Homo sapiens: one gene and its partners. The protein of the gene in region 2 purifies or fractionates together with the protein of the main gene of each other region. This does not show direct contact. Each region holds a gene or a part of one and is shown on either strand. Other genes may lie near its edges. The genes, in order: RABGAP1, TEX35, BORCS5 and HEPHL1.

The links.
Region 1: the proteins of TEX35 (region 2) and RABGAP1 purify together in Homo sapiens (affinity purification with mass spectrometry; 3 studies listed by BioGRID and IntAct, with this or other methods). This does not show direct contact.
Region 3: the proteins of TEX35 (region 2) and BORCS5 purify together in Homo sapiens (affinity purification with mass spectrometry; 3 studies listed by BioGRID and IntAct, with this or other methods). This does not show direct contact.
Region 4: the proteins of TEX35 (region 2) and HEPHL1 purify together in Homo sapiens (affinity purification with mass spectrometry; 3 studies listed by BioGRID and IntAct, with this or other methods). This does not show direct contact.

What each region holds. Positions count from the first base shown.
Region 1 is NC_000009.12:123,097,727-123,105,794, forward strand, and holds the end of RABGAP1 (rab GTPase-activating protein 1), read left to right. Parts: intron 1-14; coding exon 15-119; intron 120-988; coding exon 989-1,072; intron 1,073-1,751; coding exon 1,752-1,823; intron 1,824-3,839; coding exon 3,840-4,037; intron 4,038-5,364; coding exon 5,365-5,487; 3' UTR 5,488-7,140; downstream 7,141-8,068. UniProt on the Homo sapiens protein: May act as a GTPase-activating protein of RAB6A. May play a role in microtubule nucleation by centrosome. May participate in a RAB6A-mediated pathway involved in the metaphase-anaphase transition.
Region 2 is NC_000001.11:178,508,349-178,516,646, forward strand, and holds the start of TEX35 (testis-expressed protein 35), read left to right. Parts: upstream 1-4,760; 5' UTR 4,761-4,840; coding exon 4,841-4,879; coding exon of another isoform or gene 4,880-4,903; intron 4,904-5,678; coding exon 5,679-5,729; intron 5,730-6,351; coding exon 6,352-6,420; intron 6,421-7,510; coding exon 7,511-7,567; intron 7,568-8,266; coding exon 8,267-8,298.
Region 3 is NC_000012.12:12,465,078-12,472,801, reverse strand, and holds the end of BORCS5 (BLOC-1-related complex subunit 5), read right to left. Parts: intron 7,257-7,724; coding exon 7,026-7,256; 3' UTR 1,569-7,025; downstream 1-1,568.
Region 4 is NC_000011.10:94,107,990-94,115,412, reverse strand, and holds the end of HEPHL1 (ferroxidase HEPHL1 precursor), read right to left. Parts: intron 4,511-7,423; coding exon 4,348-4,510; intron 3,877-4,347; coding exon 3,808-3,876; intron 3,722-3,807; coding exon 3,519-3,721; 3' UTR 1,205-3,518; downstream 1-1,204. UniProt on the Homo sapiens protein: Is a copper-binding glycoprotein with ferroxidase activity. It oxidizes Fe(2+) to Fe(3+) without releasing radical oxygen species. May be involved in the regulation of intracellular iron content.

The DNA of each region.
Region 1 (8,068 bases), on a different chromosome or scaffold from region 2:
CTTAAATGTTTCAGGCTGAGGAAAAGGCAGATGCTCTGAATAAGGAGCTGCTGATGACCAAACAGAAGTTGATTGATGCAGAAGAAGAGAAAAGACGGCTGGAAGAAGAGTCTGCTCAGGTAAGGGAACTCTCCCACATTCCTCTGTCTTGCAAATGCTTGAGAACTGGGAGTTCAGCTGGTGGCTTCCTGTTGGCACTAGAAAACCTAGAGACATCTGGCTTCAGTTTCTTTCCAAAGACTTTTTTTTTCCCCCTACTGTGTAAAGTCCAATGGTTCCTAATTAAAGTCTAGGAGGAGACAGTGGGTTGAAGCCCATCCTTTGTTGGGGCAGGAGAATTTCTGTGTATCAGCATCTGAGCATAACAAAGAAGAGGGGGTAGAATTCCTGCAGAAGGAAAGCACACATCATATAATGCCTGGCTGTTTCCCTACTTGTCCTCTGCTGTCTCCCTCATAGAGCAAGCTTGGGAAGTCTTGTTCTGAGCCAGTGCTCCATAGTCATTGGAGACACAGACCTGCAGGCATGGGAAGAGCTCTGGGTGCTGTGCGCCTGGGAGCAGTCCCCTCCCCTGTCACACCACGGTCGTCCAGGAGGCAGGACTGGCTGGGGTGAGAGACTGCAAAGCCCTTTCTACAGAAACCATGAGATGCTGAAAACCCGCAGTCCTCTTATGAGCTCTTTGGTTTGTGTCTGGTCTGTCAGTGAAGGTCCACAGGTTGGCTTGTACTGGCAGGGAAGACCTTCAGCAGAAGCCTCAATCTGAAATGGGGTCTGACGTTTTTGGAAGTTTTAACTGTTCTCTCCCTCTCCTGCATCAGGAACAGGGGATTAGTGCTGCCAAGATTGAAGGAAGAAAGTAGCTGAATTAGAGGACTTCCAGGGTTTGGTTCAGCAGTTTTTGGGAAGCCTAGCACTAAGCGGTTGGTGGCAGAACTTCCTTTATTTTTCTGTTAACATAGTCCCTTTTGTTTTTTTATGTGTGCAGTTAAAAGAAATGTGCCGTCGGGAACTCGACAAGGCAGAATCTGAGATTAAAAAAAACAGTTCTATCATTGGTGACTATAAGCAGGTAGGTTCCAGTACCCTGGGATTGGGCTGTGTAATCTGGGAGCCCCTAGTCTGGATAAAATGTATACCCGCCCCCCACCCCCAAACCCAAATGCAAGCACCCTGGTTTCAGATCCTGGCTCTGCCCCTGCACTGACAAGTGGCTTCACTTATTCTCAGTTGTAAAAGAAGGAAAATCATCCCTGCCTAGGAAGGTTGTTACGAGGATTTAAAAAGACCATGTTTGTAGAGTGCCTGGCAGTGCCCAGCACATAGTAGGTACTTAAAACCACAGTATGTTTTGGTATGTATTTCAGATTCAGAATTACGAACTTTTGTTTACGTGTAGTTTTAAACCGGTTATTTCCCTGACTGGTTGAGTTTTAAGAACATAACAGAATGGTCTTGTTCCCTCCTACACTAGGATCTCTTGCTGGCTCATGAGTCTGGCAGGTGTTCAGAAACCATTGGCCATTGAGTGTGGTGCTGCTTGGTTTCTGCAAGTCCTAGGCCAGTGAATGCAGAGGCGGCATAGCTAGAAGAACCCCTGCTTATCCATCGACTTCATATCCCCTCCTGAGCGGTAGCAGGCTATTTGCTACTATGTTAATTCCAATTTACATATTCCAGCTTCCACTATGGAATTTATGCAGATGATTACAATTGCTCAAGAGATTGTTGTTTTATATTTGTTTCTTTAGATTTGTTCTCAGTTGAGTGAAAGATTGGAGAAGCAGCAGACAGCCAATAAGGTGGAAATTGAGAAAATTCGGGTAAGACTTCTCTTTACCTAAAAGATTTTATACCACCTACTTCATTTTATGGCTGTATAAACAGGTTTTGGGAGGAGGCAGTTGATTTCAAAAGTGAGAGAATCTAAGCAATAAGGCACCTGTCACAGGTCCTGGCTCAGTAGTTGACAACTAACACTACGCCTGTTTTCTCTGGAAGGGTGTACAGATGAAATCAAACAAGCTCTAGCTTTAGATCTCAAAGTGCAAGTGCCCCATGATTTCCAAATGTCTGTAAGGCAGTCGATGTCCGCAGTGTGATGCTGAGGAGAAGGAGTCATGCAAGTGATAGGTCTTGCTTGAGGTGGTGGGAGTGCAGAGGTCAGAATCATGTGCTGTGGCTTGTCACTTTCCAGTGTTGTTCTGAGTTCATGCCTTCTGCTGTAACACATCCAATTACAATGAGGACCTTAGTTTATTTTTATTTTTTTTTATTTTTAGAGACAGGGTCTCACTATGTTGCCCAGGCTGGCCTTGAAATCCTGGGCTCAAGCGAAATCCCTCCCTCAGCCTGAGCTGCTGGACTCCAGGTGGGCACCATTGCGCCCAGTTTAGAACTTTAATTGTTTAATGTTTTGTTGGCAGCTTAGGAGTTTTTATAACATGGTGCTTTCTTTCTTTAAGTTCTACCTGTATTACAGAACTTGTCAGATTTTACTAAGATAAGCAATTTACTGAAAAGTGCCTCACTAACATATTTACAGCTCAGAGGACAGGAACTTGGGAAAGTTCTGTGCTCATGGCTATGTTTGCGCAAAGCAACATTACCTAGAGCAGGATGACACTGGCCTTCGTCATAATTAATGTTTAACCAGATGTGTGTGTGTGTGTGTGTGTGTGTGTGTGTGTGTGTGTGTGTGTGTGTGTGTGTTTGAGACAGAGTCTTGCTCTGTCATCCAGGCTAGAGTGCAGTGGCGCCATCTCGGCTCACTGCAACCTCCGCCTCCCAGGTTCAAGCTATTCTCCTTCCTCGCCTCCCAGCTAGCTGGGATTACAGGCTTGTGCCACCGTGCCAGCTAATTTTTCGATTTTTAGTAGAGGTAGGGTTTCACCATCTTGGCCAGGCTGGTCTCGAACTCCTGAGCTCGTGATCCACCCGCCTTGGCCTCCCAAAGTGCTGGGATTACAGCTGTGAGCCACTGCGCCTGGCCAACCAGATCTGGTTTTTAAACAGAACTTATTTTCTGATTCTAAAACTTTAATATTCTTGCAGAAAATTTGGAAAAGAAGAGTAAATAAGGGAAAAAAGCCCTTATGATCCATTTTCCACATATAACATCTTTATTAATACTGTGGTGTGTATTCTTTCAGTCTTTGTTCAGTGTTTAACGTCTAAAATTTCATTCATTCTGAGATAAGCATTTCTTTTCACATTTACATCTCTGAAAGTCGGATGTTTTATAATTGGCTTTTTGTGGTTTAATTGGCAGAATGTTTTCTTAGAGGAACATAAAATGACATTTCTTACAGTTAATGGCATCTTATTTTGATGAAATGTGGAATACATTTTATTTGTAATCATAGTTTATGTACATTTTTGTGTTCTATTTCAACCAGCATGCATCCATTTTCCAATGTTATAAAAGTTCCTCAAAAACCTTTTAGAGGCTGTGTACTTCCTTGTATAAATATAGCACAGTATATTTAATATTTAATTGTTTTTGAATAGTTTATCCCCTGCTTTTTTGCCTGTCTCCAGTTCTACAGTGAAAATTTTTGTACATAAATTTTTATCTAGTTACAGCTTCATTTTTCAGCCTGGGTTCCTAGAAGTGAGATTACTGAATCAAGACAATGATAATTTTATTATTTTTGGTGTATAATACCAAGTGGCTTTTCCAGTAGGTTATCTGCCAGTTTACAAAGAGCACAGGTTTTCAGAAACTGTAGTGCTCAACAGAGAAGCCGTCTCTTGGTGTCCCCCAAAGGAGATGCTCACACCATCCTAAAGGGCCAGTTCCTCTTCTTTGCCTCTTCACATCTAACATTCAATTTCAGCAAAAAGTGGATGACTGTGAGCGGTGCCGGGAATTTTTCAACAAAGAAGGGCGTGTAAAAGGCATAAGCTCAACCAAGGAGGTTTTAGATGAGGACACGGATGAAGAGAAAGAGACGCTCAAGAACCAGCTGAGAGAAATGGAGCTAGAACTGGCACAGACCAAACTCCAGCTGGTGGAGGCCGAGTGTAAGATACAGGTAACAGCAGCAGAGCTCAGACATGTGCCTGCGGGCTGGGTTTCCTGATGTGCACTAGAGACCCCAGAAATTATCTTTATGGTTTGGGGTTTTTCCACACCTTTTAAACTTTGGTCACAGTTGTCATGAGAAGAAATATAGGACTTGTTACTGGCCAGTGGATGTCTCATCAGTATTTGGCCTGTCTTGAGGATTTCCGCTGTCATATTGAGAATAATACACAAAAGCTTGGAATCTTTTGATGGGATGAGAAGACAGTGCTTTAGAAACACAGCTCTACCACTGAACTGTTTGACCTTGGGTTAGTAACCTCCCTACATCTCAGGTTCCTTATCTACAAATGGAAATGATGAGAGTCCCTATCTGATAGGTTGGTTTGAGGACTAAGTAAGATAGTGTGCACAAATGGCTTGGCAGAATGTCGGGGGCTTTATAAATGCAAGCTTTTGTTCTTCCAGTTCCCACCACTTAACTAGCTTTGTGACTGTTAATATACTACCTATCTGAGCCTCCTTTCCTGATAAAGAAGTTAGGGCTTGTTTTGGTCATCTTAATACACATTGCTAGGTCCACCAGCACCACTAAACCCTAAGCACTGTTTATGGAGGGAACAAGTTCAGGATAAAAGCTTTAGGGCTGATTCTCCCTCATGGCACACATTCACTGGGCATCTGCTCTTTGGCAGGCCCTGTTATAGGTCTGGGACTGCAAAGCTAAGGCCTGGTAGTGTGACTACCCGGAATAATCAGGAAAGGCATCACCAAGGCAGCAGTAGCTGTGCTGTGATCAAAGAATGCACAGGGCTTGTAGCTACAGGAGAGAGAGAACAGTGGCAATTCCAGGCAGAGGGAGTGGCATGTTCAGCAGCACAAGGAGGAGAGTGGCTGCCCAGGAAGGACCCTCAGGAGTTCTTTCCTTGCAGTAGGGGATGGAGGTGGTGCTAAGGCTGGAAGAGAGTGTGTGGATCCAGATTGCGAAGCATTTCAAATGCCATGCTAGGGAGTTTAAAGATTTTTGCCAAAATGAAATGATGTCACCAGAAATAGAGCATTACCTGTCTGCCTGGTGTGCATTAGGTGGACAGAAGAGGGAGACATAGCAAGTAGAAGACTGTTTTAATAAATAGACCAGGCAAGAAATTAGATCTTAACTAAAAGCTCCCAAATCTTTAGGCATTTCAGGCATTTCTATGCCAGTTGGAGACTGGGGGAATTCCCCGAGGCCTCTCCAGAGTAAATAGACTGCATTCTTGTCTTGGTTCTCCTCTGGGGAGCCAGTGTCATTGACACCAAGCCCAGCATCCTCATGCACACTGTTCCTCTTGCAGGACTTGGAACACCATTTAGGGCTTGCCCTCAATGAGGTGCAGGCAGCCAAGAAGACGTGGTTTAACCGAACACTGAGCTCCATAAAGACAGCAACCGGGGTTCAAGGGAAAGAGACTTGCTGAGAGCAGCTGCCGCCTCCCGACACCTTCAGAAAACACGACACCTTTTGTTGCCTTCTTTGGCCAGATGTGTGATTCTGTGACTTGTCCCAGGACCAGAATGTACCTAAGTCAGATCCATAGACGCATGTTGGTAGGTCACTGGACCAGAGCTTGTGAAGCAGGCAACCTCTGGGGTAAGACTACTGATACTAACAGGCCTGCTAGCTCAGCCGACGCTCTGGACACTCTAGAAATCACTCCTCAGTGTGACCTCCCAGGCCTCTTCCCCGTGTACGTCAACACCTCACCCAGCCTAAAGGCTGAGTTTACATGATCAGAGTTAGGGGATCCTTCAGTCTGTTGATTTTTTTTCTAAACCTTTTTTTTTTAATATACATATATATATATATATATATATATATATATATATATATATATATATATAGTGGGGGTGGGGCAAGGGATCAGAAATTCAAATAATTCTTTTCTGCTTCAATGCCAGCAGAAGGTCCCCCAGGTAGACATGGAGAAGCACTTTGTTTTAAATAGGAGGGTTTCATAGTTGCATCTGAAGCCACCTGGTTCTGTTAAACTGTATGGTGCAGGTTTTGGGTTTGGCATTATTCATGTTTCTGATCAATTCTATGCAACTCTCATAGTTCCTGTTACTTTTTAGCATTAGCTGCCAAATGACTTCAAAAGGCTGGGGTGGGTGACTTGACTGTGAGACTGGATTATAACATGGACAAATCTTATTTTGCTTAATGTGTTTGTGTGTGTGTGTGTGTGTGTGTGTGTGTGTGTATGTATATATATATATAAATATCTTTCCCAATATGCCCCGTTGACAGTGTTTAAATTCCAGACTAGGACTGCTGATCTGCACAATTTAATTATGTGGTTATTCGAGCACTTAATTTCACTCAAGGTTCATTGGGCTCTGCTCTCCTCCCTGCCATTACGGGAGCTGTGGACAGAGCTCCCTCACTTCAAGATTCCTAGTGTTTTTGCACAACAGGTTGTCCAAGTGAGAAAGACTGAGTTGCGTGTCTGTAAATGTCTGCGCAGGGTGCACATGCTGCGAGGTCTCCATCCTCCGGGCCTGTCCCTCCCAGATGGGCTGGGCCTTTGGGCCCTCCTCAGAGTATGCCTGGGTACAAACCTCACTGTTCAGATGGGCTGTAAGTTCTCACTTCAAAGCTATGGAATGGATTTTAGCACCTTTAAAAAAAAAAAAAACTTTGACTTTTAATTTATATAGTGATATGCTGACAGGCTGACACGCAGATGGTTTTGTCCTCTTTTCTGCGTTCAGTGTTGAGGCGGCTGCTTACAAGAGGCACTGGTTTTGTATATAAAGACACTCGGGTTGTTTTGTAGCTCTTTTTCTTATTGGCTGTACTAACGCTTGCTGAGGTTATCTGTAATAAGGGAGGTAACAAGTGGCAACCCCCTCCCCACCAACCATCCCCTTTGCTGCTTTCTGTGTCTTTCTTGTTCAGTTACCAAAATAGCTGTAAGCCTATCTAATGCTAGGTGTGTGGACATTGTGCTAAGGTAGTTTCAGTGTGTCAACTTTATGAATTGAAATATAAACCAGTAAAATTGTATTACTGTTTCTTTTGTTGGTTTTATTTTAACAGCATATTGATTAAATATTTTGGTACAAACAAACAGCATTGCTTTGTAAAAACCAGTTTTGTCATCACCTACTCCTGTCGCCTCCCCTTCTTCCCTCATCCCCTGCGCACAGAAGCAGTCAGAGAAGACCACTGTGTGTGCTGTAAGAGAGGCATGTGTGAGCGCGAGGCAGCCCCTCACCCACCTGTTGAGACGTATGGAGTGGTAGGGTGTGGCAGGCCACATGGGGCAAGATGACGACGTTGATGCCTCTGTGTTTGTTTATGATGAACATTGCCCCTCTGAGAAATAACATGCTGTAGTAGCAGGGATGAGGGACACTTGGTGTTTTTGAGGCTTAAGGAAGCCTTACAGGAGGTAAGGGTCAAATTAGACCTTCAAAGGCAAAAGCATCTCACCAGGCAGAGATGGAAGAGGGAATTCCAGGGCCAAAGTGTGCATGTGCAGGGGAAACAGCTGAAGAGTAGAAAGGCAGGCTGAGCACCTGGGGGCCGGCTGTGGTCTGCTAAAAGCTTTAAAAGCAGTGACATGGAGTTGTCATCATCTTTTCAGAGCCTCTTTCTTCCTATCGCCTGTCCTCCACATCCCTGCACCATACAGATGAGGCTCCCAGGCCTTCTGCTGCCCCTCTTCACCACCTCAACCCCCTTCTCCATAGCAGGAAGAAGAACGAAGCTTCCCTAATCTTACGGTTCCCCCTTCCCGCTTGACCTGCCCTCTAGGACCCCACCTATGCCTAGCCTTTAAATGGATGCAGGCTGAACAGACCATAGCTTCATGCCTGCAAGAAGGATGACTGGATGGATGGCTGGATGGACAGACAGACAGATAAATGTAGATTAGATAGATAAAGTAGATGATAGATAAAATAATAGATAGATGAGATAGATAAGATGGATAGATAGATGATAGATCGATAGATATAGATAGATAGATAGATAGATAGATAGATAGATAGGGA
Region 2 (8,298 bases):
GGGCCAATGTTCACATGGACTCAGCTCTGAGGTCCTAATGACCTCGGGGGCAGAACGTTCAAGGGAAGGAGGTAAACCAGATGTAAAAGAGTCAATGGCCAGGCTGACCCCACTGGATGCCAACCAGCAGTCAGTATCTCCGGGTTCTGAAAAACTTGGCTCAATCTGAGTCATTGCCATGTTCGGTGGGTGGGGCCTAGCATTTGGCATCTCCAGGCAGGAATCAAGTTCAGGTGGCTTCATGGGGCTGGACACAAAGGTTCAGCTGAAGAAGGTTATGGATTCTCAGCCAAGAAGACAGCAGCAGGGCCCACCCCTCAGGAAGGGGCTGGCAAAGCTGAGGCAACTTGGTTGGGCCCTAGTGCTACTCAGAGGGCTTAGAACAGCAAGAGAAGTGTAGACCAGACCCACATTCTGTGCTGCAGAAGGGCAGAAGCCTGTGGTGGGGAGGGAGGTTTGCAGGGCCTTCCACAGAATGAGACTGGGTTAGACTGGGACTGGGACAGACTGGAACTATTGCACGGGAAAGCCCTGGACAAACCAGATCATTATTCCAGTCTCTGTCTCAATGCTCCAGCCCACTGGCCATTCAGGTGACACAGAGGTGAGTCCCTAACCCTAATCCTAACTCTTCCAGTTCACATTTGCTAGGAGATTTCATTCTGTTTGAGTGTCCAGTGTAGGTTTCCTCTTCTTTTTTGTTTTTTGTTTTTTAATTAGACAGGGTCTCATTCTGTTGCCCAGACTGGAGTGCAGTGGTGTGATCCTAGCTCACTGCAGCCTTGGCCTCCTGGGCTCAAGCAATCCTTCCACCTCAGCCTCTAAAGTAGCTGGGACCACAGGCGTGCACCACCAAACCCAGCTACTGACTTCATGGATTTTGGACCTTGTAAGCTACCTCCCTTTTACCCTAAGTGTGGAAGAACTCGAAATCAAGTTTTCTTATGAGGAGACTTGTTAGAGTAGAATAAGGAAGATGAAATGTGTCAGGAAAGTATAGCGGAGATTAGCTGCCTGCCCCATAAGCCTGTCTCCTCTTATTCTTGGGAGAAACCTGGCCATATTTCCCAGCCTCTTTTGCAGTGAGATATGGCCTTGTGATTATATTCCAGCCAAAGGAATGTGAGTGGGAGAGACGAGGGCTATTCCCAGGACTAACCCAAGAAACCCTCCCATCTGAGACGTTCCACTCTCCATGGACCCTGTGTGAAGCATAGTCCCCCAGCAAGGCCAGCCCCAAGAGGCTACTGTGCCACTCAGTTTGATTGTTTCAGTGATGGATGGGAATTTGAAGCTGTCAGAGGTGGACAGGAGGCTATTAGGGGAGGGAATCTCAACTGCAGAGCACCTTCCGGCAGGGAAGCTGAGAGAGACAGGCGTGAAATCATCACTGTACTCTATTTGGGTTCCATCCAAAGAGGGTAAAGGGAACTGGCTAAGTAAGGAGGCCTCAGGAGCCCTGTTTGGCAGGAGCAGGGAGAGCCTCTGCTGGCTGGCGGTGTTGTCTTTATCTCACATGGTAGGTGCCCTGTGATGGTTGGTTGTGGGAAGAGTAGCAGTTTCCCCTGGGTCTCAGAAGGCCCTGGCAAGCATAGGCCTGTCATGGTGAACTTACAGAGAAGATCCTTCCACAATACATTTGCTCAGACTTTTCACTTGTCATTGGCTGTATTGAAATAGCCAGAGATTTACAATGATCTGTTCAGACTGTTATGTTTTGTTGCTGAAATAGAGGTACCAGGAAGTTCATATGATAAAAACTGGATATAAATTTTCCAAAGAAACAACATAATAGGATTATGATTCCAGCCAAGGTCTGATACACTATGATAAAAATGATCAGAAATTGCATAGTAATCAGTGTGCCAATGATAAAAGCTATTTCTACTCTGCTCGGAGTAAAGCTTTCCAAGGTGTCTATAAATCAGTCAAGTAGGATGACACAGGAATCAATCATATGAGATCTCTAAAAATGTCATGTAAGAGGATCTCATGTAAGATCGTCTCTGGCTGAGGGCAGCCACCCAGATACTGCAGCCTGTTGGGATGTAAACAGCCAGGGCATCCTAAGTGTGAGTCGTCTAGGTCACATGTATTGAGCCGTGTCTGTTTGAGTTTGACTGGACAGCAAAGCCTGTGGGATTCTGGGTCTTTGTGAAATGTTCCACCCTAATCAAAGGACTTTAGAACATTGGGCCCCCAGTGGTCGAATAGGCCCCTCAGCACGCATGATGTTCTCTTCATGTTCTCTGGGCCTTGACGCAGGGAGTGGCTGAGCCTGGACCTCATCATGGGCCAGACCCAGAATCACAAAATGCCAAACTCAGAGGCTTAAAACCATTTTAAAATTCCCCCCGACCCCAGCCTCCCCTCACAACACTGTATCCTTAAAACTGAAAAAAAAAAAGCAGGACCCTTGTAAAGAAAATGAAACCCAAATGATATCAACTTGGAGAACAGAGACAGGTGGCTGCTTCTTTCTGTCTGTTGTGAATATTCCTTTTCCCCCAAACTCCGATGGAGCAGCAGTGGGCTCTATGCTGCTTGCCCTGGTACAGAGGGGTTTTGCCCTGAAGGGGGATTAGGAAAAGCGTGTCTGGCGTTCTTCAAGTAAGAACGTCCTATGGCTTACCTAGAACAAAGTCACACCACAGCAATACCAACACTGCAACACTGCTTCAACCTCGTTTCTCTTGCAGGTGCAAAAGCTTCTTAAAAGAATATGAGAATCATTATTCAGACTGGGCATGGTGGCTCATGCTTGCAATCCTAGCACTCTGGGAGGCCGAGGTGGGAGGATCCCTTGAGCTCAGGAGTTGGAGATCAGCCTGAGCAACATAGTGAGACCTTGTCTCCACAAAAAAATTTTAAAAATTAGCTGGGAGTGGGGTGGCGCATGCCTGTGGTCCCAGCTACACAGGATGCTGAGGCAGGAGAATTGCTTGAGTCCAGGGGTTCGAGACTGCAATGATCCATGATCATACCACTGCACTCCAGCCTGGGAGAAAGAGCAAGATCCTGTCTCTTCATAAATAAATAATCAGTATTCAGGTTCGCCACGTGGATTCCCCCAGCCCCGCCAGAATATATCGATAAAACAATGGTGTACAATGTTTGAGAACATGAATAGTAAACGCTGTGAGAAGGCACAAGCCCAGAGCTGTGGCTCTGTAGTTAAAATTCTGCCCAAATGATAATACCATGTGTACTTGTGTATATATACATAGATAATTTTTTACTTTATAATGCAGCTTTGCATTGAGACCCTGATTTCTCTTAGACCTTCTTTCCTAATAGATAGGCCAGTGGGCTCATGTGCTATGCTTGGCTAGAAGGCAGCTCATTTAACAACTGCTCAGCCAAGCAAGGGAAGCTCTACTGCAGGTCCAGGAGGCCCCCAAGCCAAAATTAGCAGAAGGAGGTGGGGCACATTTTCACGGGGCTGGTGGATGTTGAGATGGAGTCAGTCATTTTCACTGTAATTCCCTTAGAGGAAGGGCATTCCTACCACGAGGCCATCAGATCTGAGAGGGCTGAATTAAAAGGTCCAAGGAAACTGAAAAGTTCCAGCCCCTCATTTATAAGTGGGGAAAGTGAAGCCTGGGAAGCTGGTGACCACCCCCAACTCCCTCTCCTTCCGCTGATGCAGTGGCAGACACATTCTCCTCTGGCTATGGTGGAGTAAGACCCACAGCTGTCACCAGTGTCAGGGCTGGGAAATCACCACCTAGGAAATGCATCAGAAGTGCTGCAGGTGGCTCCAGAAGTTCCAGTGGCCTCCAGGAAGGATAGTCCCAAGCAGGTGTGTGAAATGGGAGGGTAAGTGTGGTCAGTAGTGGCCTGCATGGGGATGTCATTCACATGCAATTTGCATTAGTTCCTGTACTCCTGTGCTGTCTGTCCTCAGATGTCCATGTTGGCCTTTTCTGTGCAACTAGCAGTTGAAATGAGAGGGAAGAAGGAAGTGAATGACCAGTGATAAGAGGAAAAGAGAAATCAATTTCACCAACCCAGATCCCCAGTGATTTTTTATCCCATGGGGTGCCATGTTCCTCTGACTGTCTACTTTAGCACAAACTATGGCTACCCGCAGAATGGCCTTTTCTTTAGTATTCTTCATTTGCCCGAAAAGCTTCTTATCTTTAGCTTCTTGTCCCAACCCTCTTCCCGGATGATAGAAGAACTAGGAAAAGAGAATTTTTAGGTGGGCAGGGGTCTGGGGGTGGTTGTGGGACAGGGGCAGTGTGAGGTCAGAGGCATCAGAAACCATCCTGCTGAGACTGGCTACCCCACCTCATACAGAGTAACCCAGGTTAAGTGAGACGGTGCATGCACGTTGAACCAGAGAGACTTCATGGCATCCTCCAGCCCAAGGTGGCTTCCGGTCCGAGGTGGGGTCGGTTCGCGCGAGGAGCGCACAGCAGAGGACATGGGCTGTGCGCTCAGAGGAGGAGCTGGCTGTCCCTGGAGGACGTCCTTCTGAGTCAGTAGGTGAGTCCTGCTGCAGAAGGAGCCACTGCTTCTGACGCGTGCCTTGCACTTCGACCGTAGCAGGCCATGATCCTCCTCAGTGTGGACTTTCCTTCTGTTGCAAGAGGGAGGCCTGGTGGGACTCTGAAACCTGGCCTGAACCCCTCATCTCAGTGGCCGAAGCCCCCCAGGCCTGAAGCTGTGGTGACGCTCTGGACCACCATGTGGGTCCTGGCATTGTGACCTCAGCTGTTCCGTACACAAAGGGGTGGTCACCCTGCCCTCACCTTGACCTGTAAGTTGCCTAGGACAGTGGCCTGGTCCCAGGGGCTGTTGTGGGGAGTTGAAGAACACCCTGGCCTCCTCCATCATGTCGGCCAAGAGGGCAGAATTGAAGAAAACACATCTGGTAAAAGAGAGACATTGCTGGACAGTGTGGGTCCTCTCTGAGCTCCTACTGAATGGAGATGGTGTCGGGGCAAGGGATACAGAGAATGCTCGCATGAATCTCTGGTTTTTCTTTCTCTGTACTGAGCATAAAGCAGCCTCTCAGTCTGGAAGGGGTGTGGGATTAATCCCTAGCCTTGGGGGTGGGAAGGAAAGAGGCCTCTGCTGCCTCCCTCTGGGGATGAGGAGCACTGCCAAGGGAGCACTCCCTACTCCAAGACCACTCATGGTTCCACGGCCCATGCCAGGCCTGCCAGGCCCACATCTAACCAGCAGGGCTAAGGCTCAGAATAACCTTATTAGATAAATATAATCATCACGTCGATTTTATAGATGAGGAAATGGGGGCTCAGAGAGGCTAAGCAACTCACCCAAAATAACAGAGATAGTAGAGAGGTCAGCTGAGACTATAGTGCAAATCTGCCTATGGCCAAAGCCCTTGCTCTGGAAACAACACTTCCGGGGCTTGCTTCTAGTTATCTTAAAGTGCTTTCTCCACGCTGGCGCCTCCAGCAGGGAGAGGGCTGCCTGCCAAATAGGCAGACACACGCCCATAGGAAGAGGACAGCACGACAAGATGTGATTTGTTAGGAATCGGATCCGGGTGCTGCGGGGTCTGTGAGCCTGAGCTCAAGCCAGTTGGACAGGCAGGGTTGCATGGTTGTGGGGGGCAGGGGGCAGGGTTCCCGTGCAAGGGCCAGATGTTCTCCTCCCCAATCCTGATGTCTGCCAGCCTGAATCTCAGTCTCCTCTTTTTGCAGAGCAAGAACTACAAGGCAGTTTGCCTGGAATTGAAGCCAGAGCCGACCAAAGTAAGAAGCCCTTTTGAGGCCATGCAGGCAGCCAGGCCTGAGATCCATGGGGAAGTGACCAGGAGTCAGGGGTCATTTGCTGATCCTAGTGGCCAAGATTTGTCCCAGGTGCTGGGGGATGCACTGAGAGTTCTTGCTCTCATAGAACTTCACACTGTAACCAATCAGATACATAAACGAACAAGGACTCATTCAGCAGTGTTACCTGCTCTGCTGGGAATCAAGACAGGGAGACATGTCTGAGTGGCTGCCGTGGAGTGGGTGGTAGGGAAAGGCCTTCCTTTGAGCTGAGAGCTGAAGGACAAGACTCTGGCTTTGCAAAGGCAGAGTAAGAGCCTTCTAGGCAGAGGAGGCAGCATGCACTGAGGCCCAAGGTGGGAATGAGCCTGGCTGTTCAAGGGACAAAAGGAGCTGAGGCCCCGTGGGCCAGCAGGGGAGTGGAACAAGATGAGCTGAAAGAGGGAGGAGGATAGAGGAACCTTCTGCACAGGTGGGGCCACCAGCTTTCCTCTTGCCTTAGCCCTAAGGGAGGAACAGAAACACAGGGGGATCTCTTCTGCCTCTGCACTTCCACCGCCCATCTGCAATTCCCAAAGGTCTGTGTTCCTGTTTCAATCCACAGACATTTGATTACAAAGCAGTTAAACAAGAAGGGCGGTTTACCAAAGCAGGAGTGACACAGGACCTAAAGGTGAGTGCGTGAACTTGGAGGCATGTCTATATTCCAAACCACGTGAGTGTAAGTTTTCCCCAAATCCTCAGTGCCTGTTTCCTAAATACAAGAATATCCTCTTACATAGGCACAGTGCAATTATCAAAATCCAGAAGTTAACACACAGACAATACTCATCTATAGCCCTTGTTCTAATTTCACCAGTTGTCCCACACATGTGTTGCATAACAACAGAAAGGGGACGTTTTCTGGTCTAGGGTCTGATCCAGGATCACACATTGCCTCGAATTACCAGGTGTCTTTTCTATAATCTGGAACAGAACAGTTCTTTTTCTTTGGGTACACTGACATTTATTTATTTTTATTTTATTTTTTGAGACAAGGTCTCCCTCTGTCGCCCAGGCTGGAGTGCAGTGGCATGATCTAGGCTCACTGCAACCTCCAACTCCCAAGTTCAAGCAATTCTCCTGCCTCAGCCTCCCGAGTATCTGGGACTATAGGCGTGCACCACCATGCCCAGCTAATTTTTGTATTTTTAGTAGACACAGGGTTTCACCATATTGGTTTTGAACTCCTGACCTCAGCTGATCTGTCTGCCTTGGCCTCCTGAAGTGCTGGGATTACAGGTTTGAGCCACTGCACCTCGTCTGGGGACATTGACATTTTTACAGATTACAGATCACTTATGTTGTGGGATAACCCTCAATTTGGCTTTGTCTGTTGGATTCCTCATGATGAGATTCAGGCTGTGCATTTTTTGGCAGAGACACATGATGCCTGTAGGTCCCACTATCTTATAGTCTTTTTAAAACATTAATTAATTAATTAATTTTGAGATGGGGGTGGGGGTCTCGCTATGTTGCCCAGGCTGGTTTCAAACTCCTTGTTTCAAGTGATCCTCCCGCCTTGGCCTCCCAAAGTGCTGGGATTACAGGTGTGAGCCAGTGCACCTGGTCTATCCTATTGTCTCAACAACATCTTTTCTTTCCTCCCTATTGAAAGCTTTTCTCTGACAGTGTCCCAGGATCTTTCCTTTCCTCCTGTTGATGGTTTCCCCTCCATCCTAGATATTTCTTTCCTCCTTCTCTTCTCCATTTTATTTCCTCAGAATGAACTCAGGGAAGTGAGAGAAGAGCTCAAGGAGAAAATGGAGGAGATAAAACAGGTAAGAAGATGAGGCCTTCCATATCATGGAGGGAAAGTGTAGCTTCAGGAAAAATGCAATCCTTAAGTTTGAATAGTGAAGGAAAGCAGGAATTGCATGGAAAAATGTAACTCAGTCCTAATACCCAGAGCACTTCAGTATTAGGTTATTCACTTCTTACTTGTTTGATGCCTAAACCCAATTTTTGAGTGACTGAGGACTCCCTAAAGTGTCTCTTTGGTAAGGGTGGGTGATGTCACCTTAGTGATGAAGCTGAGTAAGAGGGGCTGATTTGGAATATGAATTTAGGGGAAGTCAGGGACCAACCCCATCTTCCTTATTCACTTCCCCTGAGCAAGTTGCAAAGCAGGAAACCTCTCATTTCTATGATACAACCAACCAACCACCTGTAGCATCCTTAGGAAAAAAGCGAATAATCGAGCAAGAAAGTGTAATCGAAGCTGTGGTTCAAGCTCCACATGCAGTCTTGCAGTAGCCAGATCTAAGCCGTGCCAAGGCTGATGGTGGTGGTGACTTGATGGTGCTTGCACCCTAGTCCCTTCACAGACTCCTTGAGAAGAAAGTGGCTCTAACAGGCCATTATTAGTCCATGCCAGAGAAGCAGCCACTGCCCTTTGCTTAAAATGCCTGAAAGATGCCACAACTAACCTCAATAACATGCTCTGTGCTTTGTCAAGCCATGCCTTTCTTCCTTGTTAGATAAAGGATCTAATGGACAAGGATTTTGATAA
Region 3 (7,724 bases), on a different chromosome or scaffold from region 2:
TGCCGGGAGGTGTGGAGGGAGAGGTGTGGAGGGAGAGGCATGGGCGGGAACCGGGGCTGCGCACGGTGCTTGCAGGCCAGTGCGAGTTCCAGGTGGGCGTGGGCTCAGCGGACCCTGCGCTCGGAGCAGCCAGCTGGCCCCACCGCCCGAGCAGTGAGGGGCTTTTAGCACCCGGGCCAGCAGCTGCTGTGCTCAATTTCTCACAGGGCCTTAGCTGCCTTCCCACAGGGCAGGGCTCAGGACCTGCAGCCCGCCATGCCTGAGCCTCCCCGAACTCCGTGGGCTCCTGTGCGGCCTGAGCCTCCCCGAGCGCCGCCCCCTGCTCCACAGCGCCCAGTCCCATCAACCAGCCAAGGGCTGAGGAGTGTGGGCACAGGGCGTGGGACTGGCAGGTAGCTCCACCTGCAGCTCTGGTGCAGGATCCACTGGGTGAAGCCAGCTGGGCTCCTGAGTCTGGTGGGGACTTGGAGAACCTTTATGTCTAGCTCAGGGATTGTAAATACACCAATCGGCACTCTGTATCTAGCTCAAGGTTTGTAAACACACCAATCAGCACCCTGTGTCTAGCTCAAGGTTCGTGAATGCACCAATCAACCCTCTGTATCTAGCTACTCTGGTGGGGCCTTGGAGAACATTTGTGTCTAGCTCAGGGATTGTAAACACACAAATCAGTGCCCTGTCAAAACAGACCACTCGGCTCTACCAATCAGCAGGATGTGGGTGGGGCCAGATAAGAGAATAAAAGCAGGCTGCCCGAGCCAGCGGTGGCAACCCGCTCGGGTCCCCTTCCACACTGTGGAAGCTTTGTTCTTTCGCTCTTTGCAATAAATCTTGCTACTGCTCACTCTTTGGGTCCACACTGCTTTTATGAGCTGTAACACTCACCGCAAAGGTCTGCAGCTTTACTCCTGAAGCCAGCGAGACCACGAGCCCACTGGGAGGAATGAACAACTCTGGACGCGCTGCCTTAAGAGCTGTAACACTCACCGCGAAGGTCTGCAGCTTCACTCCTGAGCCAGCGACACCACGAACCCACCAGAAGGAAGAAACTCCAAACACATCCGAACATCAGAAGGAACAAACTCCGGACACGCTGCCTTTAAGAACTGTAACACTCACTGTGAGGGTCCGCGACTTCATTCTTGAAGTCAGTGAAACCAAGAATCCACCAATTCCGGACATATTAGGAAGGTGTAGATTGAGATGTGAAGAAAAATAAGACAAAATTGGAGCCGAGTGTCCAAAGAGATTATGTGAAGGGTAGAGGGTGCATATGGGACTAGTTGATGGAAACTTTTTAGTCTCAACACGTTCACTGTTACTTTATCTTAAATACTCCTTTGGTTTTGTTTTTCTGAGAAGCAGGAATGTTTTAGATCTAGTAAACAAAATTTGTCTACGTAATTTTTCTGTGAATATTAGTCTTCTGCATCTAGAAATGGAAGCAGGAAGTAAACTATTTCTAGCTTCTGTGGGACCCATTCATCCTTGAACGGCCTAATTATACTTGGTTATATCTTTAAAGTTGCAGAATCAACTGGAAAATCACAGCATTGTCCTGGAAGATATTTACAAGTCAGTCATATTGTTGTACTTTATTTGCAGAGACAGCAATATGCACTTATGTAAAAACAGTTTCATTCTTTTGGTTCCAGCTCAAACACTAGAATCCGTTTGAAAATGCTGTCCCACAGGAAATGCAGGATGTGGCCGGTAGAAGCAATGTGACAGGCAAATAGGGTAACCTGAAGAGCATTCAGTAATGGTCTGTGTTCTCTGTCAGAATTATGACAATTCCAAAGACCAGAATGAAAGTACTTGGTGCAGAAAAGCTTTTCGCATAACTCATGCCTCAAGGAATGAGCCTTGATTGGTGAAGAAAATTGAGTCAACGGTAAATTCCATCAGATCTTACACTGACATTGATAACCCTGGAAAAATCCCGGAGGCATGGACACGCACACACCAGCATAACGCTGGTCATCCTGGCAGGCAACTAGATCTAGTTGCCAACTTTTTTATCTTTTTGGTTTGAAGCATGTGGATAATTATCTGGCTACCCTTTCCCTCTGTAGCCATAGCATTTGAATGGAAGAGACATGCCTGGTGTGTCAAAAAAAAAAAACCCACATGAAATTCAATGTTATTTATGACAGCAGTCCCCAACCTTTCTGGCACCAGGGACCCATTTCATAGAAGACAATTTTTCTACAGACAGGGAAGCAGGGGGATGGTTTCTGGATGAAACCGTTCCATCTCAGATCATCAGGCATTAGATTCTCATAAGGAGCGCAAAACCTAGATCCTTCACGTGCGCAGTTCACAATAGGGTTCACGCTCTTAGGGGAGTCTAATGCTGGGTCTGTTCTGACAGGAGGTGGAGCTCAGGCAGTGATGTGAGTGATGGGGAGCAGCTATAAATACACACGAAGCTGGCCAGGTGCAGTGGCTCACGCCTGTAATCCCAGTACTTTGGGAGGCCAAGTCGGGCAGATCACGAGGTCAGGAGTTTGAGACCTGCCTGGCCAACATGGTGAAACCCCATCTCTACTAAAAATAAAAAATTAGCCGGGTGTGGTGGCGGGCACCTGTAGTCCCAGCTACTCGGGAGGCTGAGACAGTATAACTGCTTGAACCCGGGAGGCGGAGGTTGCAGTGAGCCGAGATCGTGCCACTGCACTCCAGCCTGGGCAACAGAGCGAGACTCCATCTCAATAAACAACAACAACAACACGTGAAGCTTCACCTGCTCATCCGCCGCTCACCTCCTGCTGTGCAGCACACTTCCTCACACGCCACAGATGGGTACCAGTCTGTGGCCTGGGGTTTGGAGACCCCTGATTTATGGTAAGTTAGTGAACAATAATGCCACCTCCTCAGAGGCACTATATAGTTCTTAACAAAGGAATGAAGCGAAAGGTCAGGGAAAGAAAAGCAAAACTACTCTCGTGATTAAATTTCATACCTAAAAAGTCCACAAGAAGAAAAGTTTTCATTTCTCCCTAATCCATCCTTCAATCTTGAGTATCAACATTTTGAATAATTTCTGCTGAGCACTATATATCTGGGTTTGGCTGAAGTATAAACAAATCAGGAAGACCAAGTTTCCCAATTGCACTAGAATTTTAATACATGTCTGGTCACGTCTCTGACAATTCCTGGTTTTGCCTTGGGAATTACTAGGGGAAATGCCAAAGCTAAGTAAGTTCTACAAATCAACACAAAAGTGGCATACGTCATTCGCCCCAGGGCCATTAGTTTATGTAACCTTGTAAAACCGAGTTTGTAATACCTATAACGTAAGGGTAACAGTACCAACCTCTTTCATAACTGAAGAAGCCGCAAAGAAATACTCAGGATACAGAAACATATATACAGACGCACACATACATAAAATCAAACTTTTTTACTCAAAAAGCAGATTCTCCCAGACTAAACTCATTTCTAAACGGAGTTTCACTCTTGTTACCCAGGCCAGAGTGCAATGGCACGAACTTGGCTCACTGCAACCTCCGCCTCCCAGGTTCAAGCGATTCTCCCACCTTGGCCTCCCAAGTAGCGGGGATTACAGGCACCAGCCACCATGCCCGGGTAATTTCTGTATTTTTTTTAGTAGAGATGGGGTTTCACCATGTTGGTCAGGCTGGTCTGGAACTCCTGACCTCAGGTGATCCACTCGTCTCGGCCTCCCAAAGTGCTGGGATTACAGGTGTGAGCCACCGCGCCCGGCCTAAACTCATTTCTTGAATGTACTCCTATATCAGGGTATGGAGTCCTTGAAACTCATTTAATGAAATGTTTACTCTGTGCAGAGAATACTGGGTAGGTATCTAGGTTCAAAATATATTTCATATTTTAAGGATGTTATCATCTAAGACACAGGAAACTATATATGTGTGGTCTATAAAACCATATATAGCGTTACTAAGAATAAAACTTTGAGGGAAACAAAGACATGAAGGCCAGTTTCTACCAACCTTCCACTTTGACCAGGGAAACCAGGAGACTGCACATAGAGGCCTATTTGACTGTGTTCATCAACAGAAATGAACAGATTGCAAGATAAGCAAAACAGGCTCTAGAAAGAAGCAGCCAATGAACAGCTAATTTATAATTAAAAGGAAGAAAAGCAGCTGCACCTTGGGAGCTCGGAATTTAGTCACTACCAAGACCCAGGGCCACTGCTCAGAGACAAAAGGTAAACACGCTCATTGTAGTCAAGATGTATCGGAATCACAGACTTGGAATCTTAGAGCTGAAAGGGGCTTGAGAGCCCACCCAGACCTGCTCACGCTGTAGGAAGGCGGAAACTGAGGCTCAGGGAAATGAAATGGCTTGCCAAAGATTAAGGCTAGAAACGTCCAGCCAAGGGCTCTTTCACAACTCCTATCCCTGAAATATCCCATAACGGCCAGATAGGTCATGGGGTATTAACCAACAAAGAGATCCAGCATAACTGCTTCTTGAAATACAAATCACTCAGACTCCCAGGTTCCATCAGGAAATAGCAAAACATGAGAGGGAAAGGACTGGTAATGCCATGTTACCAGTCAGAGGTTCCATCAGAAAAGAACCACTAGGAATGATGTAGAAAGAGAGGATTGTGAAAGCGGTTTGAGCAATTAGAGGGGCTGGTGAAAGTCTCGGTTCGGCTGTTTCTTCTTCACCAGACCACAGGCCAGGCGGTTGGAAAGGATGGTGAGGGAGAGCAAGTACGACTGAGACCTGCAAGCCACAAGCTGGGACCTGCACCTGTCTCTCATCAGAGCCCGTGCTGGTCTCTCATCCCCAAACCTTCATCCTTGTGGCTGCAGACCAAGAAGCTGGTTCTCATACCCGGCCCAGGGTCTGGAAAAGCCAAAGGCAGAGTTCTGCGGGAGTGGGAGGAGCCGTGGGCCCAGCGGCTGCCCACACCACAAGTGCAGGAGATCCATGGTAACGTGCACGTGATGGAACAGGGCCTGACCTACATCCACTTCCAGTGAATACACATGGCTGTTGCTCTACTTCCACTTCCAAACCTCATGCAAATCTCTCTCGTGGCCAACCCTCACCAGAGAAACAAACAAGGAAGGGAATTCTGGGAACACAGTTCAGTTTAGCCAAGTTCACGACACTGCAGAAACCACAACATGCCATCAAAATATTAAACTAACTAGAATTCTTTCCGGGAGTATTGAATTTGCCTATTGTTCTTCTGCCATACTTCTCCGCTTCCACCCAGTAATAAGTAGCCTATCACCTACTCAGGACCCCAGTCTAAGTGAACCCCATGTTTTGTCTAACTTCTACTTTAGAAGTAGACACAGTTGGCTGGAGAGCTGGCTGACTGCGTGGTTTGTTTGTGCTGCACTAGGTCTGCCATCCTGCCCTGTGCCAGCCACTAACAGCTGCAGCAGTGGAAAGGCTCGGCCCTCGCAGGCTTGAACTGCCACCCACTCTGTGCTTTCATGTGTCACCTGTATTAAGTGCAGTGAGGATAATGGCACCTAAGCTATTTTTGTAGCTCTGTAAACAGCCCTTCATTCCTCGAAGCTACAAACATATCCCTGTGTTCAGAACCAGGTTCTGTATACTCCAGAAGAAAGACAATGATGGTGATGTCTTAAATATACCACTTTTTGTCAATCTAGGTGAAAGAAATATGAATATTCATTGTATTATTCTTTTGAATTTGAAAATGTAAAATTAATTAATTTTTTTTAATTAGCTGGATTTGGTGGCACACACCTGTAATCCCAGCTACTCAGGAGTCTGAGGCGTGAGGATCCCCGGAGCCCGGGAGTTTGAGGAGTCAGTGTGCTATGATTGCGCCACTGCACTCCAGCCTGAGCAACAGCACAAGACCCTGTCTCAAACCAAGATTAGAATCAGATCAAGTTTAGCCAAGATACATTAAATTAAGCGCATCAATTTTAATCTTGTGAATCTACTGAAGGCTCTTTCTGGTATCTGAAAACACACCTCCCGACGCTTGCAGGAACTTAGGGAACAGGGTACAGGCCTGCATGCCGTCCTGGCCCCAGCGACTCCCTTCAGCTCTGACTTTTAGTCTCAAGGTGTCTGCCTAGGTCTGCTCCTCACATTCCACTCTTTGCTTCTCCAGTCCTTGCTTCCATTAGAACACCTATGATGTGTAAAGTACGACACTAAGCACTTTTGTTGTTACTCAAATAACTTCCTTTCCTAAACTCCCAGAGAAATTCAGCAGCTTTTTGAGCTTTTTTCTTTTCAGAAATGAAGGCCTGAGGCTATACGGCCATATTTGTATCCCTGGCACAATATTGGACACATCAAATGGGTTCAAGAAATGTCTGTGGAATGAGACATCTCTGCAGTCAAAGAAAGCTAAACTATGTCTGCATCAAGGAAACCGGTTATCAGTGGAGATGAATCTGATGAGGGTGTGGAAAGGAAGGCTTCAGCTTCTGATGACGACTAAGGGACACCTAACCTGACAGTCAACAAAATGCCAGTGTTCCACCTGGGCAGGAAGACGCGCCCCAGATAAGGGCTTGGTGTGACGGAAACAGTCAGGGTAGAAACAGGAACAATACAGAGACCTAGATTCAATTAGTTTTTCAAGTTGACCACACATAAACCAGACAGCCTACTGAAAAGTTCATGAGGGCGTTGAGAACACAGAGCTTCGTAAAATATTTTCCCCTTGTCTCCATATTTTTATTCCGGTACCTGGACTGGACTATATACTCTCAATTAAAAAAAAAAAAAAACTAAATAAAAATAATTCTCAATGCAGAGTTCTTCAAAGAATTCCTAATAATTCACACGTTCCAGCTTCAGTTATCACCGAGAACTGGTTAGGTTCCTTCCACACCGGGAAACTGCATCAAGGAAAAGAGCTGGGCAAAGTCAGATTTTCATGCCAGCCGGACTCCTTCGCACCCACTTTCAGGGAGCCTCCCGCCAGCCTCCAGACCTGGTCAGATGATATGACCTTAGCTCCACACGTCCTCAGGGTGTCGGTGTCTGGGGCTCCCAGCCCCAGGCAGGCCGGGCAGCAGCTACAGCCTGAGCTCGCGGTCGGGCTTCATGCTGAAGGGCTCCAGCCGCTCGCCCTCGGGCAGCATGCTGTTGAGCCTGTCCAGCAGGGGCACAGTCTGGTCGATGCCCATCTGTATGCGGCGGAGGATGGCGGACATCTCGTTCACTTTCTGGATCTGCTCGGCATACTTGGCGTATCTTTTCTGGCGCTCCTGCATGAAGCTGAACAGAGTTTCTACAGACAGATCCATCTGTGGATGGGAAAGAGAAGTACATTATACCTTGTTTAATCAAGTCCTCTCCGCAGGGCCGGGTGTCCAGCCTGTGAGGGACACAGTCCCGCAGATCCAGTGGAAGCTGACAAGTTTTACAGGAAGCACCCAGGGCTAAAAAGCCCTTCAGGGACACAGCTTTATCAACTGTTGTGCCAGAACCACCTTTAGAAGAGAACTGAGAGGGGACTGTCCCTGGCTCTATGTTCTGGGAATGTGCGTTATTTGTACCTTGTTGAGATCCTGAGATTTCTATCTCCCTATATGAGGGGAATTCTGGATGTGGAAATCAGTCAGGCCAAGGCTGAATCTGGCTCTGTCACGTGTATGAGCTGCTAATGCTTATCCTTTGTGTCTCAGGTTGCTTATCTAGAAAAAAACTAGGAGCAGATGGGCGTGGTGGTGTGTGCGTGTAATCCCAGCTACTTGGGAGGCTGAGGTGGGAGG
Region 4 (7,423 bases), on a different chromosome or scaffold from region 2:
AAGTTGGAGGAGTGGGCATGGGCCAAGTCAAGCTGGGTCTTAAAGACCAAGGTAAAGAGTTTGGATGTTATTAAAAGTGAAATGGGAAGACAGTAAAGGGTAGTAACCAGGAAAGTGATGAAATTTGGAAAAACGTGAGGCAATGTGTGGACAGTGGTGGAAAGGAGCAGTAGTGATGATGGAGAGGCTGGTTTGGGGACTGCTGCAGTGGCCCTACTCAAGCAGGATTTGTGTGAATCTGCAGCCCAAGGTCAGGGTTAGAGAAATACATTTTGAATTTGTTTGCATAAAAATGGTTTTCCGATCATAAGGATGGATAAAATAAACTATGGAGTGGCTGGTAACACATTACCACAAACTTGTTGGCACACATTTCTTCTCTTACAGTTCTGGACCTCTGAAGTCCAAAATCAGTTTCAAGATATCTGCAAGGCCAACCTCTCTCTGGAGGCTCTAGAGGAAAATCCTTTCCCTTACCTTTCCCAGCTTCTGGAGATGCATTCCTTGCATTCCCTGGCCCATGGCCCTTTCCTCCATCTCCAAAGCCAGCAGCATGGCATCTTGTCTTGGTTGTCATATTGCCTTCTTCTGTAGCCAAATCTCCCACTGCCTCTCTTTCATAAGGACACTCATGATTACATATAGGGCCATTATGGATAATCCAGTATAAATTTCCTATCTTCAAGATCCTTAATCATACCTGCAAAGTCCCTTTTGCCACATAGGGTGACATTCACAGGTTCAGGGATTAGGACATGACATCTTTGGGGCAATATTCAGCCTACCACAGAGGGTAAAAAGCGAAAAAGGACCCAGTGTCAAGTTCTGAGGCATGCTAACATTTAGGTCAGACAGAAGAGAAGGAACTAGAAAAAGAGATTGAGAAGGAATAGTCATTGAGGAAGAAGGAAGGCTGGCAGAGAGTCATGTTGCAGAGCCAAGGGACTAGAGACTCCGAGTGTTCAGAAGGAAGGAGCTGTTTCTTGTTGCTGAGAGGTTGAGTAAGATAAAGATGGAGAAGAAGCCACTGGAAATGGCATCATGATTGGTGATCTCTACCACAGCAGATTGGGGTGTGGGGGCTGGGCACGCTGGATTGAAAGCCATCAGAATGGGCTGAGGAATGCATGGGGTGAGGTAGTACAGGCACCAAGTGTGAATACCTCTATGTTCTGCTATCAAAGGAAGAGAGAAACTGTGTCGGAGGGGGTTATAGAGTTAAATAAGACAGCACATTGCTTTCTGTTTTTAATGGCGGACATTGCTGATGGTTTCATAGAAAGATGCAGGAGGAAAAATGGATACCCAAGGGAATGAAGTCTTGAGAAAGCAAGAAGCAATGAGACCCAAAGTCAAATGAAGAGACTGTCCTGCTAGGAGCAGGGACACGTGTATTGTAATAGGAAGAAATATGTGTGTAAGTGAAGGCAGAGTTGATTTTCTCAAGAGTGAGGCTGAGAACAAGGAGTGTAGTTATGTTTGAGGAAACAATGTTTGAGAAGTCATATTATTTGTGGAGATACACTATTTTGTTTCATTTCCTCTAACAAGTGTCATTGGCATAGTCATAGCCCCTAAATATCTAAAAATTAATTCCACTTTAACCACCTCCCCTAGTTCAGTGATAGATAATTTTAAGTGAAAATAACCATGCAAATAGCCACCTTATGTGACACTTTATTAAAATGATAAATGATGCAATCAAACTACTTTGTGGTTTTGTTTTCATTAAAAAAATAAACTGAAAAGAAAAAAAAACAACTGAACAACTTGTCTTACTAAGGTGGGTAATAAATAAGGCATTTACCATAATTATGAAATTATGCAGCCTACACATGTATGAAAACTGTAGAACATGTACTATGAAATCACATTGTCAATGGTTAGCAGATTGAAATTCAAAATCTTTTGTGTATGCTGTTTGATATGACATTCAAGCAAACTATGAACAGAACTATTAGCATTTGCATCCCCTTTTATGTTAAGACTATAGCTTCTATCCAATTACCCATTTCCCCTCATGAAGATGAAGATGAGACAGTGTGAAAGGTCCCTCCACCAGAATATTTCTTAGGTCCTTGTCACTCACTTTGACATTCAAATTACCCACTGCTAAGGCAGGCATACCAGTATCACTCATCTAGCATTGGCATTGGAATCTCAGGGCATCTCGCCCAGAGCTAAAAGCAATTTCTCAGTCTTGTAATAAACAATGTTACTTTTATCAATCTTACACCTACTGTCTAAGCATAGGTATGGACAGTGTAGATTGCCTCATAATGGGTTGAGTTTAGTTGTTCAATAATTTTTTTGCATTTGAACCTTGGAAATTATTTATTAATTTTCAAAGCTGGTTTAATGGTTTAAGAGAATCTGCCACCAAGATTATCTTTTTCTCACCTTTCCTTTTCCTTTTTTCTCCTTCCATGAAGAGGTATGTCTTTAAAAGCCATAGAATCTAGGATATTTAGAGGTCCCTTCTCCTATCTAGTCACCTACATTGATAAATTCCTCCTGATGTTTCTCATACAATGAGAATGTTATAATTTCATAGAAGATGAGGACTTGTAAAGATTCCCTCTAACTGAATGAAAAATCAGACTCCAAATTCAAGCCCAGACTTGCCTCCTGCAAAGCTTCCCTCCCTGATAGAAAGCTTGCTCTAAACTCTCAGGGAGTCCCTGATTCATAAAGGGAGAGCCTAACATGTTCTTTTACAGATTTCAGCCCTCCCACAGTCTGCAGTAGAAATACAATTTCTCTACTTGATTTTTGAAAGTACAAACATTGCCACAGAAACATATTGTAAAAACATGTAACATGAAGTGAGTTGTAAACATTCAAGTATTTCTACAGGTTTGAATAAAAACAGCAGCAATTTTTTAAAAAACGTATAACTTTGCTTTTTAAAACAAGCACTGCACAGGCTATTTATATCAAAGAGGAAAAGGCCAGGAGAGCTGGTTAAAGCCTCCAAAAAATTTATTTGGTCTAATTCTATCAGCAGACACTGACTTAGACATTGCCAAGAACTCCTAAGAAAGATATTTTCCACAGAACCAAGGGATGCATGTTATGCAACAATGTTGAAAAAGTAGTGCCCTTCCAGTTAAATGTCTGAGGCACTCTAACTTTTTCTAGAAGCTGTTCACCTAGAAACTTTGGTGGTTAGCTAAGAAAGCACTGTTCAAGAATTATAAAAGATGGAATATAAAGATATCTTTCAGAGTGTCTCCTATTCAGTGAATCCAACCAAAGAATAGACTAAGAGTTGACATTCTCAGCCATGCCCATTCTCCTTTTTCTGTGTTTTATACCTGAGGATTATTCGCAGCCCATTTAAAAATAAATAAATAAAAGCAAATTGCTTTGGATGATGTTTGAGAGGATCAGAAGGCTGATCCAGGATACAGTGTCAACCTTCCTTGGTGAGTGATGCCTTGGTCCAGTTTCCCTGTTGGCTGCCATCTGGCCAGCTGTGGGACATCACCCTTTCCTGTTGAGGGAGACCAGATGGTTCACAGAGCATCCGTGGGGAGAGCACAGGACTGGACTTGCTGGTAATCTGTCTGCTTCATTGCAGAGCAGAGTCTGAGGGAGAGAATCACCGTGGTGATTAGAAGGAGGAGTCCAATGATGAAAAGGATGACCAAGGCTGCCTTGGCTCCTGTTGGACCCAGATTCTTGCCAAAGAAATAGAGCTGCTCTTTGCCAGGTCGTTCTGTGAAAAAGATAAACTTGTCAGGCCCCTGACATTTTTGAGGGGTGAAATGTTGACTCATTTACATGGGGAGAGGGTATCATTACCGTTAGATGGCACCGTGGCTGGGTGAGATGCCACTCCAGGAGATGTGGTGGAGTAAGGAATCCTGTTGTCTGCACAAAGAAAACAAGTTCATTGTTTTATTAACAACAGAAGGGGATTCTTTTCATGACACTAGTCATTTCATTTCACCAGCGAGGACTTATCCCATCAGTATCTGCCAATCATTTCTGGATTCTTACTGTGCTACTTCATTCCCATGTACATGCTTTCCTGCCCCAGCTGTCTTTCCCACTTCTGCTCACCCACTGAGTCTATCTGGAGCATCATGGCCTCTGTGAAACTTTGGCTCATATCCTCCAACTGTTACCCATTCACTCCTACTGCTGCTATTAAGCCCTGTACTCTGCATTCTGCTACGGCACATAGCATACTTGATTATAGTTACATATTTACATATATGTCTCTCTTACTTGACTCTGAGCTTGTTGAGGGCTATATCTGGGTTTTTGTCATGCCTCCTGTTTTGGGGGTCTACAGGAAGCTCGGTGCCATCATCTGGCATCACTGACAGACAACCGTACCTATGTTACGAAGGACCGTGTAGGTTGTCTCCATGCCAGCATGGATGTGGTCAGACACATGACAGTGTAGCAGCCATGTCCCTGGGTGATCTGCAAACAGTTCAATGGTTTGGAATGTCCCAGGAAAGAGATCATACACATCTTCTCGGTAAGATTTATCTATCTGCAAAAACGTTTTAAAAAACAACAGCTAGTAGCCTTCTTTGCTCAGAACAGCAAGAACAGAAAGAAGAGCAAAAACAAATAAAACCCACAGTAAGCAAAAGGAAGGACATAAGAAAGAGCAGGAATCAAGAATAGAAGTACAATAGAGATAAGTCAAAGAAATCTAAAACTGATTCTTTGAACAGATCAATAAAATCAATAAATTCTGTAGTAGCCAGCTTCCATGATGGCCCACAATGATCCCCACCTCCTGGTATTCATAACCTTTGTGGTTCCTACCTACATTGTATAAGGGTTGGTATGCGAAATCAATAGCATGTGGAAGAAGTGCTGGCATTCCAATTCCAAGATTAGGTTATCATTACTTCTGTGTTAGATACTCTGTCACCCTCTTCTCTTGGATTACTCACTGGAGGAAGCCAGTTTTCATGTCTTATCCACATGATCAGGAGCTGAACCCTCTAGTTAACAACCATATCAGTAAGTTTGGAAGTGGATCCTCCAGCTCCAGTCAAACCTTTGAAAACTGCAGCTCCAGTCGACATCTTGATTGCCTCCTCATGAAAGATTCTGAATCAACCAACTAGTTAAACTAATCCCAAATTCCTGATCCAAGAATTACTCTAAGTTTAGAGTAATTTGTTATGCAGCAATAGATAACTAATACAAATCTCTGGACAGACTAACCAAGGGAAAAGGGAAAAGGACACATTAAAAATACTGAGAATGAAAGTGAGGACATCACTAAAATCTTACAAATATTAAAAAGGAAATACTGGACAAACACCTCTTATCCAAAAATTGTACAACTTAGATGGTATGAACAAATCCCTTAAAAGACACAAACTCCTGAAGATTACTCAAGAATACATTGATAACCTGGATAGCACTATATCTATTAAAGAAACTGTAATTGCTTCAAGATATTCCAACAAATTAAACTCCAGATGGCTTTATTGGCAAATTCTACCAAACATTTAATGGAGAAATAATACCAATTGTAAACAAACTGTTCTGGAAAATAGAAGAGGAAAGAACAGTTCCAACTCATTTTATGAGGCCAGCATTACTGTGATACCAAAACTAAACAAATGCTTTGTGAGGAAAAAAAGCTACAATCAATACTCCTCATGAACATAGATACCATCATCCATAACAAAATACTAGCAAATCAATTCCACAAAAAGGAATAATACATCATGACCAAGTAAGGTTTATCCTGGGAATGAAAAAGTGTTTAAAAACTCCACAATCAATAAATGTAATTCAGCAACAGATTAAAGAAGAAAAAGCATCTGATCATCTCAATAGATGCAGAAAAACCATTTGATAGAATTTAACATTTGTTGATGATCAAAACTCTGAGCAAATTTAGAAGGAAATTTCCTCAACCTCATAATGGGATCCACAAAAAAGCTGCAGCTAACTTTATATTCAAAGGTGAATGACTAAATGCTCCCCTTGTAAGATTAAGAACAAACTGAGGATGTCCACTTTCACCACTCATATTCAAAATTGCACTACAGGTCCTAGCCATTGCAGTAAGACAAAAGAAATAAAAGACATACAGATTGAAAATAAATGAAGCCATGTCTATTCACAGACAACATGATTGTCTGCATAGAAAATCCCCCTAAAATCTATAGGAAAACTATTGGAACTAAAGTGAGTTTAGCAAAGATGCAGGATGCAAGGTCAACATGCAAATATCAATTATATTTCTAAATATTGGCAATAAACAACTATAAATCAAAATAAAAACACTATCATTTACACTATTACCAAAGCCTTTTATATACTTAGTTATAAATAAATAAAACAAAGTATATGCAAGATCTCTATATTGAAAACTACAAAATGCTGATGAAAGAAATCAAAGAAGAGCTAAACGATAGATATACCATGTTCATGGATTGGAAGCCTCAATATTGTTATGTCAGTTCTGTCCAACCCATTGTATAGCTTCAGTGCAATACCAATCAAAATCCCAACAGGATTTTAAAAATCAAAATCAACAAATTATTTCTAAAATTTATCTGGGAAGGCAAACATCTAGAATAGCTAAAACAATCACCATCTGATTTTGAGACTTACTATAATACTAAAGTAATCAAAACATTGTGGCATTCAAGAAAGGGCAGAGTATAAACCAGTGTAACAGAAGAGACCGCCCAGACATAGACCCACATATATGTGGTCAATATGATTTTCACAAAAGTAAAGAGTCAATTCTGTGGGAAAAAAAGATGATCTTTTCAATGAGTGGTGATGGAACATTTGGACATATATATGAAAAAAAAATGAACCTTATTTCATATCTTGAACCACATATGAAAATTAAAATGTATCAGAGCCCTAAATCTAAAACTATACCACTTCTAAAAGAAAACAGAGACCTTTTTTGGGACCTTCAGTAAGGCCAAAATTTTTTATACATGACACCAAAAGTATGATCTATAAAAGAGAAAAAAGAAAAATTGTACTTCATTTTACTTCATCAAAAATTAAGAACTTCTATTTGAAAGCTGTTAAGAGAATGAAAAGATAAGCCACAAACTGGAAGCAAATATTTGTGAGTCACATCACTGAAAAAGGATTTGTATCCAGAATATATAAAGCCCTCAAACTCTACAATAAGGAAACAAGTAACCCAATTTTTTTAAATGGGCTTACAATTTGGACACTTCACCAAAGATTTACAGATGACAGATGGTAAACAAACACATGAAAAGATGCTCAATATCATTAGCCACTGGGAAAATGTAAATGAAAAACAATGAGATACCACTATATCCCCTCCCCAAGGAGGGAATGCCTAAGGGAAAAAAATGAAATAAAAACTAAAAATACCAACTGCATATGTGGATGTGCAACATATGGAGTTCTCGTATATTTCCTTGGAAATGCAAAA